Linked DNA regions of Homo sapiens. The protein of the gene in region 1 binds, or shares a complex with, the protein of each later gene. Each region holds a gene or a part of one and is shown on either strand. Other genes may lie near its edges. A codon is read from its position in the direction of its gene.

Region 1 (7,283 bases):
TGTCTGTTTATTTTAAATCATATCCTTTTAGAACTGAAAGCCATCCTAGAGATAATCTAGCCCAACTTAGGTTTTGTTCTGTTTTGTTTTTTGATTGAAAAAAAGTTAAGAACCAAAGTGACTTAAAATGTTTCAATCTCCAGATATTTACTGACAGAGGGGTAGGTTTTGTTTTGTTTTTTGATTGAAAAGAAGTTAAGAACCAAAGTGACTTAAAATGTTTCAATCTCCAGATATTTACCGTCGGAAGGGTAAAGCTAGAACCCAGTTCTCCTGGCCTCTCATTATGGTAACAAACAAGAACCTGAAAAATGACATACCCTTGATCCATTCAGTGAAGATTATTGTGTCACCAAGTTATCTTCACCAAGGGACAGTTGCCCTTACATCAATCTCAAGAGATTAAAAACCTCCAAAATGTTCCGTTTTCCGTGGATAACCTGTAATGGGTCAATGGAGTATATGGGGTTGAACCTTACAAAATTGCCAATACTTGATTAATAAAAATGATAGCTTATTATGATTCTTCCTAATTGTAAAAGATGTAAAAAAAAAAAAAAAAAAGGACAAATGTGAGACACTTTCAGTTACTCTGTACTTAACCATTTTATCTTTACCTGTTTTCATAGTAACATTTTCAGTTGTTGGTATCTTTTTGAAGTTCTTAAACTTACTCTCAGCAAATGTAACATAGTACTTCCATTTATTTGTTCTAAATTTAACTTTTTGGCTTCCTCCAGTTTTCTATTTGTAGTGTTCTAGAATTTGGGAATCTCTCACTTTATTTTTTTCATAGTTTTATAGACTGACAACCCTTTGGCCTTGTAGTGTTAAGTCTTAATCTTGCCGGGGATTTTTCAGTTCCCATCCTTGAAAAAATACATTTAATAGCGTGAATTCCAAATGTATATGCAGAGCTTTTATTTGGAAAAATTGACAAGCAATTTAGTGATTCCTGTAAATGTACCACATATTCATGAGTAGTTTATCAGGAAAAAAAAATGCAGCATTGGTCTTCACTACTAATGTCATCGTAATGGTGTATGATATATTGGGCTTTTTAGATGATGTATACAGCTTGATTTTTGCTCCTATAGATTCTAAATTAGGAAGAAATCAGGTCTTAAGAATGAACTAATTTAATATTTTGTTTGCTTATTCCATGCTCAAAGGACAAAGATTTGTTTGAAATTCCTGTTCAGATTGAAAGTACTGTCCAGTTGTATTGTGTTTAATGGTTTTAATTTTTCCTCATTTTTGGATAGTTTTATATAAGGTGTAGCTATTCTGAGGTTTGTATCATCAATCTAATACAGGTTTTCATTTCACCTGAGCCTGGCTTATGAGGTCAGGCCAAAATTTTTTCTGGCCCTTTTAAATATACCATTTGGTCTGTGATAATTTTATGTATGTGTATGTATTTATACGTGTCTGTATATACGCACATATATTTGAAGTGAGTTTCAAATCAGAAAAAGCTTTCAGAGTTGGTCGAGGCGATTTTTGTGCATACTTCAGGTCTTTGTTTAAAAAATTTTTTTAAAAGATTGATGTATTGTGAGGGAAAAAATTAGAAATAACAATTTCAGAGGTTTATTGACCCAAAATAGTTTTGGAATGTGTGATAAACCAGAAATGAATTAGCGTGGGTTGTTGAATTTCATATTCCTTCAAAAGGATTTTTCCGACCTAGTTTAGGTTTGCATGAAATGGATTAGAATTATCTTGCTGAAAAGATTTCTCCACAGTTAAAAAAAGGCCTTTTAATCAATTTACAGAATGACAGACTAAAAAAGTCACAAATTTAAAATATGTATTAATTATAAATTGGACATTACTTATTAGTTTTTTGACTCATTTCTGCTTTTGTTGAAATAGTTTCTTCTGGAAAGTTAATTTATGGAAAACAGACTTCTTACTGACACATTATTTAAACAGTTGGAGATACTGCCCTATTTATATTTACCAGAAATACTGTGTTACTAGAACTTTTTATCAGCATTGGAATTTTTGAAAAACATTTTCAATGGTAACACTAGAAATCTTAATGAAAATGGGGGATGATTAGAATTTAACATGTAGCTTTTAATACTCTGGAAAGCTGTACGTTTTTATTAAAATAGAAATTTCTGTAAAATTAAAGCTTTTAACATAAAGCTTTGATTTTGAACTATAAATATTCTGAGAGCTTTATGACAGTTATCCACACTATCAGGAGTATCCTAAAAATGAGACTATGCTACACTTACATATATTAACAAAAACCTCTTGGGTATGGTCTAAGCAATACCTTATAAACTGTGCTTTTTCTGAAAATTTTTAATTTTTTTTTCCTGATCGAAATCTACCATTCAGGTGTAAATATGTATTATATCTGGCTTTCACTAAAACTTTATTATTAAATTTATTTTCATTTTTTTCTTTTATTGAGATGGGGTCTCACTCTGTCACCTAGGCTGGAGTGCAGTGGCACGATCTCAGCTCACTGTAGCCTCTCCCTTCCTGGCTCAAGCCATTCTCCTATCTCAGCTTTCCAAGTAGCTGGAACTACAGGTGCATGCCACCACACCTGGCTAATTTAAGTAATTTTGGTGGAGACAGGGTTTTGCCATGTTGCCCACGCTGATCTCAAACCCCTGAGCTCAAGCAATCTGCCTGCGCCTGCCTCCCAAAGTGCTGGGTTTACAGGCATGAGCCACAGCACCTGGCCATTATTACTAAATTTAACTGAATATATTTAAATTTACATTCTGCTGATGGGCAAGTTTTACAATATTTTATGTCCTAATGAATAGACTTTTTCTTTATAATCATTTTTTTTTTGCATATTTCCCCTTCCAGAACCTTAGGTCTTTGTTGCAAATAATTGTGATTTTAAGCACCTCATATGTAATCTTATAAAGTACTTGAATGTTTACCTTGTGGAATCTTGTCTTTTTTCCCTAGGCTTTAATAGTAAGCATAAAAAATTCATGTTCTAAAGAATATTGAGAAATTTTAACACTGGAACATTTAAAGGAGTTAGGGGATTTAGATTTCTGAAACTTCTGTGACTGCTGTCTTGCAAGAGTTCCCATTATCTTCCCCCGTCGAAAATGCTTACCAATGGTTGGTTGTTGTTTTCTCTGGATAATTGTGCAGTACCTGATGGCAATGTATTCTTCATAACTGTTTGTTTATTTTTAAGGCCATGGTAGGGGAGGAGTGTGTAGGTGCCATCGTTTGCAAGTTGGATATGCACAAAAAGATGTTCCGCAGAGGTTATATAGCCATGTTAGCCGTGGATTCCAAATACAGGAGAAATGGCATTGGTAAGAAAAATATTATTTTATGGAAAGAATGCCTAAGCTATTTTCATTTTTGTTGTGTTTTGAAATAAAAGACTTAAATGTAAGTATGTAGAAATGAAAGAAACTAAGGGAAGAAAATTAAGGCGGGTTTTAATTTTTAATTTCAAAATGGTATTTTTAAAAAGTTCTTAAAATGAATTTTTTCTTTATTAATGTTTTGTTTGACAGTTTTTCGTTTTAACAAGTAGCCGATCATCAGCTTTCACCTGCAGATTTTTTTAATCACATTCAAAATGCTTTGCATTATGCTAAGTACCACAAGAAATACTGCAATTTATAATTACATTATGATGGTCCTTCATGCCAGCCTTCAAGCACTTGTCTGTATTTGGGTTAAGTGGACCTCAATCAAGCCAAAATTATGGACAAATTGTTACCATTACTTGGTGCTAGTCATCAACTATATATTGCAATTCAGGAAAGATCAGGAGATGAGAATTGATTGTTTCTTGTAATTCCCAAACTTAATTTTTTGTTGGGTCTACTTTTCCTGACATGTTTAGTTAATCTTAACACTCATGATTTATAATGATCATTAGAATCATGTGGGTGGTTTAAAAACATGTATTTGGGCCCCTCACCCTGAGACTCTTGTTTGTCTTGTCAGAGGTGGGGCTGAAGCTTCCCTAGGTGACTGTGATGTAAGCCTGATTAAGAACCACTCTTCTATGGCTGGGTTAGATAACTTTTGTCATTTAAATAACGCCATAAAACTCAATAGGCCACCAGGTGCCGGGTGCGGTGGCTCACGCCTATAATCCCAGCATTTTGGGAGGCCAAGGCAGGTGAGTCACTAGGTCAGGAGTTCAAGACCAGCCTGGGCAAGATGGCGAAACCCTGTCTCTACTAAAAATACAAAAATTAGCTGGGAGTGGTGGTGGGCACCTGTCATCCCAGCTACTCAGGAGGCTGAGGCAGGAGAATTGATTGAACCTGGGAGGTGGAGGTTGCAGTGAGCGTGCCACTGCACTCTAGCCTGGGTGACAGAGCAAGACTCCGTTTCAAAAAACCACTCTTCTATTCTCTAGGACCTAGTGGCTCTTTGTTCACAGTGGAGAATTGGGTAGACAAGCATTTGTCTAAGCATGTCAAATTTTGTGATGTGCTTTAGCTGAGTATTCATAAAAAAAAGTTTAATACCTGTACCAGTATTTAATCATTAGTTTTTTCACTTTCATGTTTTTTAAAAACTATTAAGTGTTATTGTCCAACCTAAGACTCACACACGGTCCTAGGTATCATGAGAAGTAACTATAAATAGGTTTACTTAATATGTTAGGTTTAGCCAACTTTATTGCAGTGTTACAGCTTTCCACTAAGATTTTTAATGAATTGGGCTTGTTTTATGGACTAAGTTTGAGCCTTTGATGCATTAAAAAGCACTGATAAGGACTCATGATAAATTATAGCCAATTGTTTGGCTAGTTTGGAGGGCAGAAACCAGTGGCTTTTGGGTTGCATCCTGGCCTTCAGACATACTTTGTTTGGGCCATAAAATGCGTGCATACTTGTATGCATGGCTTGAAAATTAAGAGTTTTTAATTTAATTTTATTATTTTTTGAGACAGAGCTTCGCTGTATTGCCCAGGCTGGAGTGCAGTGGTGTGATCCCGGCTCACTGCAACCTCTAGCACCTAGATTCAAGCAATTCTTGTGCCTCAGCCTCCCAAGCACCTGGGACTACAGGCACACACCACCACACCCAGCTGATTTATTTTTTTTATTATTATTTTTTTTTGAGATAGTCTCACTCTGTCGCCCAGGTTGGAGCGCAGTGGCATGATCTCGACTCACTGCAACCTCCGCCTCCTGTGTTCAAGTGATTTTCCTGCCTCCGCCTCCCAAGTAGCTGGGATTACAGGCACCCTCCACCTGTAATGCCTGGCTAATTTTTTATTTTTTAGTAGAGATGGGGTTTCGTCATGTTGGCCAGGCTGGTCTTGAACTCCTGACCTCCGGTGATCCGCCCACCTTGGCCTCCCAAAGTGCTGGGATTATAGGCTGAGCCACTGCACCCAGCCAGTTTTTTGTATTTTTAGTAGAGATGGGGTTTTGCCATGACCTCAGCCTCCAAAATGCTGGGATTACAGGCGTGAGCCACCACGCCTGGCCAATTTTTTGTATTTTTAATAGAGACGGGGTTTCACCATGTTGGCCAGGCTGGTCTTGAACTCTTGGCCTCAAGTGATCCACCTGCCTTGGCTTCCCAAAGTGCTGGGATTACAGGCGTGAACCACTGCGCCCAGCCTAAGAGTTTTTAAATAAAATTTGTCTGTCTGCTCTTAAAATCAGATTTGGCAAATTTTTTCCCTTTTAATATACCAATTATATTTGACCCTAAACTAGGATACATTTTGCTAGACATGTACAGACACACCACTGACATCATTGGGAGTGCCAGACTTGCCAGACTTCATCGTGCTCACTGTAAAGTTTATAGGAACCTACTGTGGGTAACAGCAGTTCTGATGAGGTTGTCTTGTCCCTTGTGTCCAGGGGAGTTTGAAGGATCTTTGGTGAGATCAGCTTGGGTTATGCAGTAAGTTCTGGCCAACTCACGGGGAGTTCCTGCGTTGTTCTGGCCATACCATATCTTGTCTTTTTCTCTTTCGCTTTCCTACTGCTTTCAAACACAATAGAACAAACTCCTGCTTGTGGCAAATAATTATGTCTGAGAAAAAGGAGTATATTGGGAGATAGGTCTTTCAAGAGGAAACATACTGTTATGTATAGGTTCTGTTGGCTTCTCTTAGCTTATAGCTAAAATTTTTCCCATTTAATTTGAGGTAATCCGTGTATCTGGATTCAAGATAGAAACTAGCATTTGACATTTCTGTGCTTACGAATATTATAATTTAGGTTATCTTTAAGAAATACATTTTTCCTTCATTAATACTCAGATCTATATTCTAGGTACTAACTTGGTTAAGAAAGCTATATATGCCATGGTTGAGGGAGACTGTGATGAGGTAAGTCTTTAAAAATGTTTAATATTTTTTATCTGGGCATTATTCTTTCTGGGTATTTTTAATAAATATTTTATAATTTATTGCAGATTTCATTGCAGTGTTACTATACAAATGCAGCTTGTGGGGAAAATTATATTCCATTTAAAAACACATGAATTTTTGACCTAGAACAAATTTTAAAATGGAGCTAAAATTTCTTCAAAATGTGTGGGGGGAATCTTAGACATTTTCAGTACACAATTTTGGTATTCAGAGGCTTTATCATCAGTTATTTAAGGTAGCTCTTATTACAGACTCTGTTATAATTTGCTTACATATTGGCCTTAGTTTCTGACAATGGGAAACTGTCAGTCTATATGGAGGACATTTCACACTTGAAAATAATCTTTTCAGAATTAAATAATGACAATGTTGGCTAGGGGGAAGACAACCACTTTTAAAGAGTAGAGCTATCTGCGCATTAACATAAGAGCATTTTCTCTCTTCAGCTTGTTTGTAAGGTCTGATGGCAGATATTTCTTTGTATCCTACTGCACGGTGTTTCTACATATAGTAGGTGCATGATAAATATTGGTGATGATTGGGAATGTTAACATTTACTGTTGCACAGTGTGGAAGGGAACAAGTATAAACTAGAGAAGTATAGATGTCTTTAACATAGCAGTGGTGACTAAGGAGGAGCAAAGTTGTACTAGTACTTTTATGAGTAATAGAAGTAGCAATTGTCTTTATTATTAGAGGTCAGATGTGCCTTAGAGAATTCTCAAAATATGTGAAATTGGGTAAGTTTTTTTAAAAGGTTGACCTTAATAAATAATTTGTTTAGTGACTTAAAAGAAATGGAGTGTTTTGGTACAAAATTTATACACAGTCAGCATATATGATATATGTATGCATGTGTTTTTGTTAACAAAGTCCCTTCTACCATTCTCATGCTTTTCAACTCTTTATCCATCTTTCCATT
Region 2 (7,283 bases), on another chromosome or scaffold:
TAAGGAAAGGAAAGGAAATTAAAACAAATTATTAAATGCAAGTTGTTTTAAATTTTTTCATGTTCAGAAATGAACATAAAAAATATTAAAAATATTTGTATATGTTACAAAACATTCATTAGAGGTAAACAGGATTATCAAATAACATGTATAGCCATTTACTATTTCATAGTTTATGAAGCATTTTTTAATACATTAGCTCATTTGACATAATCAGATTAGTCAGTTTATTTTGACTATTTTAATATTACTACTCTTGGGAGGTTTTTATTTCTGTACATTTTTTATCCTACATCAGAATTCACCTTCAGTAAGGATTAATAAGTAACACTCATTGTGGAGACAGCAACTTATAAAAAATTTTCACAAACTTTTTATATTTTAATCACTTGCGTAGTCTGTGGCATTTATAAGTATACTGATTTTACACTAATGACAATTCTGTGCGTGACACCGTAACTAATATATAACATTTGTTTTAAGACCACTTTCCTGGTGGATAACAAAAAGGTCTTTGGAACTCATCTCATGCAAGACATGGTGAAAGATGCACTTCGGTCTTTTGTCAGTCCTCCGGTGCTTTCCCCCAAGTAAGTATTGTAAGACATTTTAGAGTTGTATGTATGTGCTCCTTTAAAAGCCCAACTTCTCTGTACTCCTTCTTTATAGCCAAAGTATCAAAATTGGGACCAAATCTCCATGTAAAGTAACTTAATAGTGTTAAAATTAATTGATCTCTGCCACATTGTTTAGATTAAAACTAAGGTTTTTATGAGGTTGACAAAATTTCTGATAACTCCAAGTTTTTTGTCTCCAGCGTAAGTCCTTAAACTTTGCCGTAGTAGAGGCACTGCCCCGAAAACATGCTGCCATCAGAGGCTGAAAGGATTGCATGCAGAAAGAATCATCATTTGAAAGCTGGCATTCTGAGAAATGTCAGGCTTTTCCAACAGGGAAGGGAAGAAAGGAGTCATCATTTCTTAACAAAGCACTTACACTTTGTTAAAAAAAAAGATACACCTAACAGTGTATCTTTTTCCACTGAAAGATACACGATGGCTTTCTATCACAAATTACTTCATGGTAGATCTAATTAATTATATGTAATGGCTGCCAAATATTTCATAATAAATGTTGAGTATCTTTTATCCAAAATGCCCTGGACCAGAGGTGTTTTAGATTTCTGATATTTTTGGATTTTTGAAGTATTTGCATGTACATAATGTTGCTCAGGCTGGAGTGCAGTGGCATCATCTCAGCTTACTGCAACCTCCGCCTCCTAGGTTCAAGAGATTCTCCCACATCAGCCTCCTGAGTAGCTGAGATCACGGGTGCATGTCACCATGCCCAGCTAATTTTTGTATTTTTAGTAGAGATGGGCTTTCGCTATGTTGGCCAGGCTGGTCTCAAACCCTGACCTCAAGTGATCTGCCCACCTTGGCCTCCCAAAGTGCTGGGATTATAGGCTTGAGCCACTGCACCGGCCTAATATGTTTCTTTTACATGGTGGTGTAATTTTTGTTAGCTCAAATCTTTTGAAAGCAGAATTCAGCCTGTTCACATTTGGTATACACTATTGGGTCATGAGTTTGATGTTAATAAATCAACAGTATATTAATCCATTAAATGAGGTGTCTTAAACAGAAATACACATAAAATAAGGTTATTCATTGATCAGTGCATGGAAATGTTGTGACCAGAGACTCATAGGAATCTAACCCTTTATTTCCCATGTTAGCAATGATTTAATAGTCTAATTTAGTATCTTCAGAAACTTTATGGAACATAAATACCACAAATAATGATAATTGTATATATGGAAAACTTTATTGTGTGGTAGTCTAGTTGTTCCACTGTTTTAAAACTTTCAGTGTTATAGATGAGAATCCTCTTTTCCTTTGTAAGTGATTTGAAACTTCTTCTGAAGCGTTGATGAGTTTCTCTTTATTTTAGGAGTTCAGAAGTTTTACCAGAATATTCATGTGTGATTTTCAGCTAGTGCTATCTGGAATTCAGTCATTAAAGACTCAGGTTTTTAGTCAGATCATTTGTCCCTGTTATTACTTATTTATTGCTTCACCTTCATCTGTTTTGATTTTTCCTTTTTTAGAGCTCCTAGCATACTAGGGTCTTCTAGAGCTCTCTTACCTATGCCTCATGACAGTCATCTCCTTGTTATTTTTGCTGTGTTGTGAGAAAGTTCTTCCTCTTGATCTTCAAGGCTACTAATGAACATATTTCTTCTACTGAATTTTTAAATTTGAAAATAATCATTTTTAGATTGAGAGAGCCTTTTAAAGCTTTTAAAGAGCCTTTTAAAAGCTTTATTTTAATCTCAAGTAATTTTCTTGCTTTAGGGTTAAAGATGTAATGAACCTTCAGCACTTCCCATTTCACCAACTGCCTGTTCCAGGTGTTGACCTTTTTTCTTTCTCCTGGGTGCTGGGTGCACTGTCTTTGCCATTGTGTGACCTTGACTCTGTTAATCAGAGATAAGGAACACCGTAAAGGAAACCACTTTGTGAGAAGAGATGACGTGCCAAAGGGAGGTATAGGTGATTTATAACCAATGGTGAGGAGTGGGGATACAGAAAAAATTAGGATCCTGTATAGTATTTTCTTTGTGATTATTATTAGGAGCACAGTCCATGAGGAAATCAATTGTAGGGAAATATGTGACACTGAAGTAGGGTCATGAAAAAGTAGAGCTTTAGACTTTTCCTTTTCTCTTTGCTAATTTGATCTTACTGGATCCAACTCTGATTGTTCAAATATAGACCTATAGGAATTGGAAATATCACAGATTTATTGTGTGAATTACATAATAATTGTAAAATATTTCTTAATCTAATACTGAAATTCTTTAACTTAGGTATCGGTTCCATTTTCTCTTTTATTCACCTTCTCTGTCATTTGGTAGCATCTGCAGTAATTGCTGCTGCTTTTGTTTGGGCTGAATAGATTTTAATGATGTGACTGTTATCTTGCAGGTGCTACCTATATAATAATCACCAGGCTAAGGACTGTATCGACTCCTTTGTTACTCACTGTGTTCGGGTAAGAGCTACAATTTGGATTGTCATAATGGGTACTTTAAAAATCATGGGCTGTGGCCGGGCACGGTGGCTCACTTTGGGAGGCTGAGGCAGGTGGATCACCTGAGGTCAGGAGTTTGAGACCAGCCTGGCCAACATAGTGAAACCCCATCTCTACTAAAAATACAAAAATCAGCGTATGGTGGCGCACGCCTGTAGTGCCAGCTACTCAGGAGCCTGAGGTGGGAAAATCGCTTGAACCCAGGAGGTTTCAGTGAACCAAGATCGTGCCACTGCACTGCAGCCTGGGGGACAGAGTGAGACTTTGTCTCAATAACCATAATAATAATAATAATAATAATAAATTGCTGGACTGCAATTCCTTCAGTGTCTGTGCTTTTTTTCATCTAATATTTCTTGTTTACTTTCAGTGAATAAATAAAAACTGTCTCCTCCTAACACTTGAGTGGATGGTTTTATATCCTAAGGTCTTCTGATAGGTTATTAGCTACAGAGGCAGCCTTGGATGACCTCCCACTGCAGCCTGTGGGGACCATAGATAGGGAATGTTATGACTCTCAACTGGGAAAACAGCAGTTGCTTCCTCAAAATTTTTTGTGAATGGACATAAAAACTTTACTTTTTTTTTTAACCTTAGAATTTTTTTTTTTTTTTTTTTTTTTAAGACGGTGTCTCGCTCTGTGGCCCAGGCGGGAGTGCAGTGGCGCAATCTTGGCTCACTGCAAGCTCCGCCTCCCGGGTTCACGCCATTCTCCTGCCTCAGCCTCCCAAGTAGCTGGGACTACAGGCGCCGCCATCATGCCTGGCTAATTTTTTTTTTTGTATTTTTAGTAGAGACGGGGTTTCACGTGTTAGCTAGGATGGTCTCGATCTCCTAACCTCGTGATCCACCCGCCTTGGCCTCCCAAAGTGCTGGGATTACAAGCGTGAGCCACCGCGCCTGGCCTAACCTTAGAATATTTTTAACATCCTTGTACACTTATCTTTGTATTATATTAATGAACTGAGTTATAATAAAATTAAAATTATTGGCTGGGCATGGTGGCTCACGCCTGTAATCCCAGCAGTTTGGGAGGCTGAGGCAGGTGGATCACCTGAGGTCGGGAGTTCGAGACCAGCCTGACCAACGTGGAAAAACCCTGTCTCTACTGAAAATACAAAATTAGCTGGGCATAGTGGTGCATGCCTGTAATCCCAGCTACTCAGGAGGCTGGGGCAGAATTGCTTGAACCCAGAAGGCAGAGGTTGCAGTGAGTAGAGATCACGCCATTGCACTCCAGCCTGGGCAACAAGAGCAAAACTGTCTCAAAAAAAAAATTAAAATTATTAATTTAAATGAGGTCACAAATTGTTTTCATCTCAAGTAATTAGGAAAAAATGCAAATCTTGTAGTGAGTTGAATTATTCATTTTTATTTAATTTTTTAAAATATTTATTTATTTATTTATTTTAAGACAGTGTCTCCCTCTGTTGCCCAGGCTGGAGTGCAGTGATCTTGGCTCACTGCAACCTCTACCCCCTGGGTTCAAGCAATCCTCCCACCTCAGCATTCGGAGGAGCAGAGACTACAGGCTCATGGCACCACACCTGGTTAATTTTTTTGTATTTTTTGTGGAGACAGGTTCACCCTGTTGGCCAGGCTGGTCTCAAACTCCTGAGCTCAAGTGATCCGCCCGTCTTGGCCTCCCAAAGTGCTGGGACTTACAGGCAGGAGCCACCGCACCCGGCTTCATTTTTATTTAATTAGATGTATTTCTTTTAGAGAACTCCAACAGGCAGCTTTTTTGGGTCTACTTCCAGTTACTAAATATATATATATTTCATATATATATCTACTTCCAGTTACTAAATATATATTATATATAATTACATTATATATGTACATCACAAACACTCAGGTTTAGTATATTAGACTTTGAGTTCAACTTTTAAACTTATTTAAATATATAAATATATATTATATGATATATATTAATATATATTATATATCATATAATATATACTATAATATATAATATAGTATATAATATATAATGTATATAATATATAATATATATTATATATAATAATATATAATGGAAAGGCAGCATGGTATGGGGAAAGAAAAAACAATAGAAGACCAGAATTTATTTCATTTTTATCATTAATATTTTATCAGGCATATCACTTTAATTTTTAAACTTTCCCTTTTTTTTTTGTTTTTTTTTGAGATGAAGTCTCACTCTGTTGCCCAGGCTGGAGTGCAGTGGTGCGATCTCAGCTTACTGCAACCTCCGCCTCCCAGGTTCAAGAAGTTCTCTGCCTCAGCCTCCCATGTAGCTGGGATTACAGGCGCCTGCCACCACGCCCAGCTAATTTTTGTATTTTTATTAGTGACGGGGTTTCACCACCAACAGTCACAACTGTTGACCTCATGATCCACCTGCCTTGGCCTCCCAAAGTGCTGGGATTACAGGGGTGAGCCACTGTGCCCGACCCAACTTTCCACTCTCTAAAGAGTAAAATGCTTATATCTTCTCTGACCTCTTACAGGGTAGTTACTGATCAAATGAGATAATATCTGTCACAGTATGCAAATATAAAACAGTATTATACTTTGAGAATCTTCTAACTCAGACTTACAAATCCATGTCTCTTGCCTGGTTAGTGGAATGTTACATAGTATTTTAGATGAGAACACCTTATGGAGAAAGCAGGAATAAAGAACCATAGTCAAGCTTTATGGCTATTAGCTCTTTTTAAGCTAATAATTATTAGGCATTCTGACATATTTATAGCAGCACAGGAATGTCAGCCTTGAACATTGGCTTTTGACTCAAGCAGGAAAGAAATTGTCCTTGTGAAATTGCAAGAAGATATCTAAAGATCGAAGGAAGCTATTTTTATCATATGAAAGCAAGTTTCACATGAAGCTGTTTTTTTCCAGTTATTGATAAATTCTGGTGTTGAGTTCCTTAAAACAAACACCTATGTAAAATTAAAAGTATACATAGACCTAATTCTTACATACACAGCATTTTTTTCCCTTAAACCAGATTGTGAACTTGGAATGTTAAGTTTCTTTGGTACTAGGAAATTTCATATTTACAGTTGACAAATTATATGTGTATTGCAGCCATTCTGTAGTCTTATTCAGATCCATGGACATAACAGGGCTCGACAGAGAGATAAGCTTGGTCATATTCTTGAGGAATTTGCCACCTTGCAGGATGAGGTAAGAGCCAGGTTCCCCTCTCTTCTAAAATTAAATGATGCACACACTTTGTCCAGATTTTTAAAAACAATAATTCAGAACAATATTTTGACTAATTTTTCAACATGATCCACTTTTCACTTAAAATATAACAGTTTCTTACACCAACGTTTACAAAATGAAACAGAACAATAATCCAAACTGATAGATATCTTAAATATTTCTTTGATAATAGGAATAAATTATGAAATATGTATAAAATGATAGTTTTACAAGCTTACATTATAAAAAATATTAATACATTAATTTTAAAGTTAATTTGTGTGCAGCAGCAATATTGATAAGACCTGAAGTGTATTTGTATTTTTGTCCTTTAAAATTGATTTGGTTTAAGGCATGTTTAGGTAAATGTTAACCATTGTGAAATGAGAACTTCAAATGTAAACCTAACTAAAAATGCATTTAAAAATGTTTCTTTGGGTGGTCAGATTTAAATTTTCTGCTCATATTCTTTTTAGCTGTACGTTTTTTTAAAGTTCTGTCATTACCTTAAGAAAACAAAACGAACACAGTTTATGACATTTTATTTTAATAGGCAGAGAAGGTTGATGCAGCGCTTCACACCATGCTGTTGAAACAGGAACCCCAAAGGCAACATTTGGCCTGTTTAGGTACCTGGGTCCTTTACCATAACCTTCGCATTATGATACAGTACCTTCTAAGTGGCTTTGAATTGGAACTCTACAGTATGCACGAGTACTATTACATATATTGGTAAGAGCACAGTTTGAGTTAAAATTGGTGGTGGGTGCAATGGATAAGATCTGAGAATTCAGAGTTAATTTCAGGGTACTTTTTCATTTAGTATATTTTATCTTTAGTTGTGGGACAGTTGGAAAAATTTGAAAATTAGAGCTAGATCATCTTGAATATCTTTAAGTGCTATAATATTGCATGAGTGTATTTTTCCAAATGTTTATGTAAAAATTAACAAAAAATGACTCCAAAGTAAATGGATTAATTGAAGATCATTT

Evidence for each region.
Region 2: the proteins of NAA30 (region 1) and NAA35 are in contact, whole or in part, in a cryo-EM structure (PDB 7MX2), measured with the Homo sapiens proteins. Residues at the interface, in NP_001011713.2 of Homo sapiens: Glu221, Pro238, Ser240, Tyr242, Thr243, Arg245, Tyr246, His249, Asn250, Lys304 (codon at 6,278), Ile324, Glu334, Asn335, Leu336, Gly337, Val339, Arg340, Asp341, Lys342, Arg343, Phe345, Arg346, Tyr347, Tyr348, Leu349, Leu359, Trp360, Leu361, Arg362; in NP_001308810.1 of Homo sapiens: Leu45, Gly46, Leu48, Leu56, Ala59, Met60, Ala62, Glu64, Lys69, Glu121, Phe313, Pro314, Arg315, Ala444, Leu510, Glu511, Leu512, Glu517, Pro605, Lys606, Phe607, Glu608, Leu609, Asp610, Val614, Arg615, His618, Arg619.

What each region holds. Positions count from the first base shown.
Region 1 is NC_000014.9:57,393,565-57,400,847, forward strand, and holds part of NAA30 (N-alpha-acetyltransferase 30), read left to right. Parts: intron 1-3,187; coding exon 3,188-3,311; intron 3,312-6,263; coding exon 6,264-6,319; intron 6,320-7,283. UniProt on the Homo sapiens protein: Catalytic subunit of the N-terminal acetyltransferase C (NatC) complex. Catalyzes acetylation of the N-terminal methionine residues of peptides beginning with Met-Leu-Ala and Met-Leu-Gly.
Region 2 is NC_000009.12:86,006,875-86,014,157, forward strand, and holds part of NAA35 (N-alpha-acetyltransferase 35, NatC auxiliary subunit), read left to right. Parts: intron 1-483; coding exon 484-590; intron 591-2,990; coding exon 2,991-3,057; intron 3,058-6,171; coding exon 6,172-6,270; intron 6,271-6,844; coding exon 6,845-7,023; intron 7,024-7,283. UniProt on the Homo sapiens protein: Auxillary component of the N-terminal acetyltransferase C (NatC) complex which catalyzes acetylation of N-terminal methionine residues. N-terminal acetylation protects proteins from ubiquitination and degradation by the N-end rule pathway.